2 separate regions of the Homo sapiens genome follow, and region 2 is linked to region 1. The links come from fine-mapping of genetic effects on gene expression. A gene starts in region 1. The other region holds a variant in brackets. All regions are shown on one strand. Distances are from middle to middle. Region 1 holds the start of GRHL3 (grainyhead like transcription factor 3). Region 2 has its middle 5.6 kb from the start of IFNLR1.

Region 1 (2,910 bases):
GAACATAGAATCCGGTCTGCAGTCAGGACCTAGCACTGCTGTCTGCCCACAGATCTTCAAGTTCTTAAAAGTCTGTTGAGGAGCAGTTAGAAAAAAGATGGTACAATCCTTGCCTCTGCCCACTCACCTCTGAGGGTGGCAGGAAAAGGAGAGCCTGTGTTTAAAGGATTCTGGCTTCTCCTGCCAGCTCCCTGAACCCAATCTAAAGCAGCCCAGATCCCAGCCTCACCCTACCTTCTCTAAGGTCTGGACCCCAAGAAGGACATCATGGTGAAGATCAGCATCAGTCAGTCAGGATCTTAAATCTCAGATGTGGGCAGGAAGGCACATGCATCCTCCCAGCCAAAAGAGGTGACCTACCAAAAATCACTTCTCATCTTCCCCAGCCTTAGAACTGCCTCTGAATGAGAGGAACCACATTTTACTGAACGCATCTTCAGACCATAGCTTTATGCTAAGCATTTTACAGCATTTATCACACTTAACTCTTTCCAGAATTCTACAAAGCATTCTTGTACCCATTTTCCAGATGAGGAAAATGAAGCCCAGAAAAATTGAATGTCTTGTCTGAGATCACCCAGGGACAGAGCCTGGATTTGAACTTAGGTCAAGCCCACTACAAAGAGTACACATGCTTAACCACCACACTGTAACCTTCCCACTTGGGACTGTTCCAACCCAGCAAACAAGTCCCTTTAGAGAAACCCAACTCTCTGCCTAAGACAGCTCTTAGAACTACCTTAAAGAAGTTCCTTTTGGCAAGAAGATAGAAAGCCTCGATGGGATTGGGGTCGTCTGATTTCCAAGGCCCCTTCAGAGGATCAAAAAGTGGTGCCAGAAACCTTCACAGTTTCAGTCTTGTGTTTCCCTGCCTGGCTCGAAACTGCTCAGCAAAGAGAATGAGAAAAACTATTTTCCCAGGGAAACACTCACCTCTAGCTTGAGACTGGGGCTTGCCTTGACACGCCAAAGTAAGATCGTCAGCCCATTCATTTACCCTTACAAATTGCTCTGTGAATCCCGGTGCCGGCCTCCCCGCTCTTCCCCCTCCAGGAAACCCCATCCAGCCTCCACGCTCTGAGAGCGGCAGGTATCCACCGATGTTTACTCACTCAAGTTCATTCGACATCTTCCTGCTCCCAAGCTCCGACGATCAGCACTGAGGCTCTGCTGACCGCTTGTCTCTAATTCTTGCCTGACACAGACATTCTCTGCCCGGGAAAGTGTTTGATTTATGTTGAGGTTTGGGTGTCGAGATTTTGCTGACAGGTAGGTTCCCAGCAGCGCTGGCGCTGATTGGCTACAGGTACAGGTGCCGGCGACTGGAGGTATACCTCAACAGGTGCAGCTGTTAACTCTTAGCCCGCCGAGGAGGGCGGAGCTATGGGGGACTGGCTGGGTGGAGCTGGCCAATTCCTTCCTTGGTGAGGGGGTGGGGGGTGGAGATGAGGGAGGAGGGATGGAGAAGAAAATGTTGGAAAGAAGCAAGATAACTAGAGGAAAAGTACAGGGACAAACAGATAACTTGGCTTAAAGGAAAACTTGATTCCTGTTTCTAGTCATTGTCCCAGATACCCAGAAACATCCCCACCCCCAAATTTCTTTGCCCCCTCCTTCTGTACCACTGGGGAATTCTCAAAGGAGAGAGCAACTTTTCCCAGGTAGATCTTTGTATAAGTTCCCTTTTTTTCAGTTTCCCCTTTAAGGTAATATTTTTGAATAATCTTTTGCAGTTACTCAAGTGACTTCTTTTGGTTCTTAAAGTAACCTACCGTGGTAGATTTATTATCGCTTCCCCCTTCCTCTTCAACACATATTTTACAGATGAGGGAGGAAATGGAGGCCAGAGAGGCAAAGTGCCTTGCCCAAGGGCACAGCTAGCGAGGTCCCAGCCCAGATCCAATCTGCAGTCATCTCACTCCAAGTCTGGCTGCCCCTTGGGCTGAAGTCAGTGGCCTCAATTCAGTAGACATTCATTGAGCACCCGTTGTGTGCCAGACCCTACTCTGGGTTCTGGAGAAACTGAGGCCAGAAAAAACAGGGGTTACTGTTCTAAAGGAGTTTACAATCTGGGGGGTGTGTGTTGGTGGCAGGGGGTGGGGGAGTAAAGGAGAACAGGCTTTTATTGGGTGTGAAGGGGGTGTGGGCAAGCCACATACCTCTGGTCAGCACAGAAGGGATAGAAAAGTTGAAGGCTCCTCTGAAGCCTCAGCCAGCTGGTCATTTCACAGGCTCCAAGTGCTTCGTTCTGTATTGGGAACTTGGGAGAAATTCAATGCCTGTCAGATGAAGTAATTGTGGAGTAATTGCTGTGAGCTGTCTACTATAAAGAACAAGCTTGGTAAACCCCAGAATATCCACAAACACAAACAGGAGAATGTAAGAGCTTTTTAAAGAGCTTCTTCCAGGATTAGTTTGAAATTAAATCTAAGCCAGAGATCTTGGCATCTTTTTTTCCCTCTCTCTCTTTCTATTCTCCCCTCCCCCACCCTTCCCCTTTTGGCAAATTATCTCTTTGCTGTGTCTTCCTGGAAACCTCAACTTGGCCCACTCCTCTCTCTCTTCTCTGGGAACGGCAAGTGAGGTTTCAGCTACCCCTGCCAATTTATGGAGGTTTTTCAGGGTAAAGTCAGAATTCAAAGGAGCCCTCTTGGGGTGGGGTCAGGGCTCTGGAGAGGGGGTACTGGGTTTGAGAACTCTCAGAGATTGGTTTCTCCCTGGAGGCTGTGTTGGGGGAAGCCCAGGGGACCCTAATAAATAATAGTAAATAATTGCTAATAAAGCCACCTCCTCAGAGCAGCCCTCTTCAGTCACCCTTGTTAATAAAGTAGACATTCAATCACTCTGGATCACACTACTTTTTGTTCTCTGCAGAGCCCTTATGACTTATGATACAATGTAATATGACCT
Region 2 (2,910 bases), 130 kb after region 1:
GCTATGGCTCACGCCTGTAATCCCAGCACTTCGGGAGGCCCAAACGGGTGGATCACTTGAACCCAGGAGTTCAAGACCAGCCTGGGCAACACAGCAAAACCAAGTCTCTACAAAAAATAAACGAAATTAGCCGGGTGTGGCTGCATGTACCTATAGTCCCAGCTATTCAGGAGGCTGAGGCAGGAGGATCGTTGAGCCCAGGAGATTGAGGCTGCAGTGAGCCGTGATCATGCCACTGCACTCCAGCCAGGTGATTCTAATACACATGAAAGTTCCCAAATTACAGATGAGAAAACTGAGGCCCAGAGAAAGGATGTAACTTTCTCAAGACCACAGAGTGATAAAGAAAGAAGCTTTGGAATTGTGTGGTCCTGGATGTGAGTTCCAGCTTCCCCATTTCCACCTGTGTGACCTTGGGCATGTCTCTTAACCTCCCTTTACTTTAGTATCCTTATCTGTGAAATGGGAACTGTGTATACCTCCCTCCAAGCAAGGCCACTTCGCTGCATTAAAGCCGGCGTGAGGGCTGGAACTGAGGTCTCCTGGTTCCCAGGCTGGTGCTCTTACACCAGGAAACTGGCTGTCATCTGTGCACCATCTACAAGAAGGATCTTGAGACTTAACATCTGTAAAGGCTGGCATGGGGAGAAGGGCTTTGTTTTCTTCTGTGAGGCCCCAAAAGGAAGAATTAGATGACTAGGGTAAATTACAAGGAGGTAGGTCAAAGTAAGGGCGATGTTCCTAACTAGAACTGTTCACAAACAGAATTGGCAGCCCCAAAAGATAGCAGGATCTCGTCCCCCAATGAGTCCAAGCAGCAGCATCCAGCTGGTCTCTCCAGGATGTTGAAGAGGGTAGACTTTCAGGGTAGGAAGTTGGTGGGGATGATCTCTAAGGACTCCTCCTCTGCAACCCAGCAGTGGGTGTATGCCGTTTGCCTCTGCAGCCTCCATTCCTCTGAGGAACCAATCTTCCTCCAGTTCCTATAGTTGGAGGAGCTGTCAATCAGAATACTCCCTTACCCCTCTCCCCCGGGATGGGCATTCTACCCAGAGAGGCCAATGACAGTAGCCCATTCTTCTGACCACATCGATTGGCTCAGGAAATGGCATGTGACCCAAGCCAGGCCAATCAGAATCTGTTTCCACTAGAGCCGTCCCAGAGCCACATCCATCCTTGAACTTCTCAATCTGGGGAACTTGCAGAATTCCTTTTGCACTTATGTCAGTTTAGAGTTTGTGTTCTTGCAGCTGGTAAAGTCTTAAATTCCACTCCCACATACAAATGATCTCCTTGTTCTTGTACTGGGCCCTGCCTGCCTCCAGCATTACATTAAAACAACAGCAAGAAGAATAATAGTCAAAACAACAATGGTTTAAAATCTTTAGTTTCTTG[G/T]GGGGGGAAAATGCCAAAAGAAATTTCAGTCCTGACACAGAGCCAAAAATTTGGAAATCCATTTTCTCCACCTCTCTTTCCATACATCTCATATTCACACTCACATTCAGCTCTTAGAGCAGCTGGTCCCTGCACTTGCTCCTTTTCTCTCCACATGTCCCCCAAAACTGACTTTTAAAACCCAGCCCCAATTGGCTTTTACATTTTGCCTCCTCTCCTGCCTTTTCCCAGTCCTATGGGACACTTTGCCAGCCTGCGCATAATTATCTTAGTAGACAGGAGAGGGAGAGGCTGTGAACTCCCTCTCTCTCTCTCTCTCCCTCTTTCTCTCTCTCTCTCTCTCACACACACACACACACACACAGAGTAATGTGGTTTTGTTTCCCCTGTTGCACATTATTATTATTATTTTATTTTATTTTATTATTTTGAGACAGAGTTTTGCTGTCATTGCCCAGGCTGCAGTCCAGTGGCATGATCTTGGCTCACTGCAACCTCCACCTCCCAGGTTCAAGCGATTCTCCTGCCTCAGCCTCCCGAGTAGCTGGGATTACAGGCACATGCCACCACGCCCAGCTAATTTTTGTATTTTTAGTAAAGATGGGGTTTCACCACGTTGGCCAGTCTGGTCTTGAACTTCTGACCTTAGGAGATCCACCCACCTCAGCCTCCCAAACTGTTGGGATTACAGGCGTAAGCCACCGTGCCCAGCCACATTATTTTTTAAACATTATTCTTGGGGACAACAGAAGACTGTAAAATCCCAGCTATGGAGGGGAGCATGACAGTGGAGTTATACTTTCGAAAGAAACACTGAGGTCTTCTAACTATGAGTCATATGCCAAGTTCAAGTCAGTAAACACTTAGTGAGTGGCTAAGGCGTGGCAGATAAGAACCAGGAGAGGGGCTGAGTTGTTTAGGGCATATGAAATTGTGTTTGACTGAGCCCCATTCAGCAAAGGTTTGCTTACTCACAGTTCATTGAGCACCTACTATGTGCCAGGCCCTGAGCGAGTCATTAGAGTTGTATCCAAGAAGTAAGATATTCAGTGCACAAAAATGATGATATTGTGATTAATTCATATCAAAGAGACTGCTATGGTTTGAATGTGGCCTTCAAAATTCATGTGCTGGAAACTCAATCCCCAATGCGACAGTGTTGGGAAGTAGGGCCTGATGGAAGGTGTGTAGGTCGTGAGGGCTCTGCCATCATCAATGGATTAATGAGTCCATAAAAAGGGCTTGTGAGAATGGGTTCTCTCTCTCTCTCTCTCTCTCTCCTCTTCTGTCATGTGAGGACACGGTGTCCTCCCCTTCAGACGACAAAACATTCAGGGTGCCATCTTGGAAGCAGAGAGACTGGGTCATAACCTGAAGGCATCTTGAACTTGAACTTCCCAGCCTCCAGAGCTGTGAGAAATAAATTTCTGTTCTTTGTAAATAACTCACTCTGTGGTATTTTGTTACAGCAGCGCAAAATGGGCTAAGTCAGAGACATACATGGGGATTGGGAGC

The links.
Region 2: its variant is fine-mapped to the expression of GRHL3 in lung (TOPMed, PIP 0.94).

The regions. Positions count from the first base shown.
Region 1 is chr1:24,317,771-24,320,680 of GRCh38, reverse strand. GRHL3 (grainyhead like transcription factor 3) reads right to left here and starts at 1,324. Exons shown (of 16, transcript NM_198173.3): 1 at 1,113-1,324. The coding sequence starts at 1,129. All of the region lies in intron 1 of GRHL3-AS1 (GRHL3 antisense RNA 1), which reads left to right.
Region 2 is chr1:24,191,433-24,194,342 of GRCh38, reverse strand. No RefSeq gene overlaps it. Among named protein-coding and RNA genes, the nearest start is that of IFNLR1, 5.6 kb to the right of the region's middle. RefSeq lists an enhancer at 2,846-2,910. The variant G/T (reference allele first, on the strand shown) is at 1,396.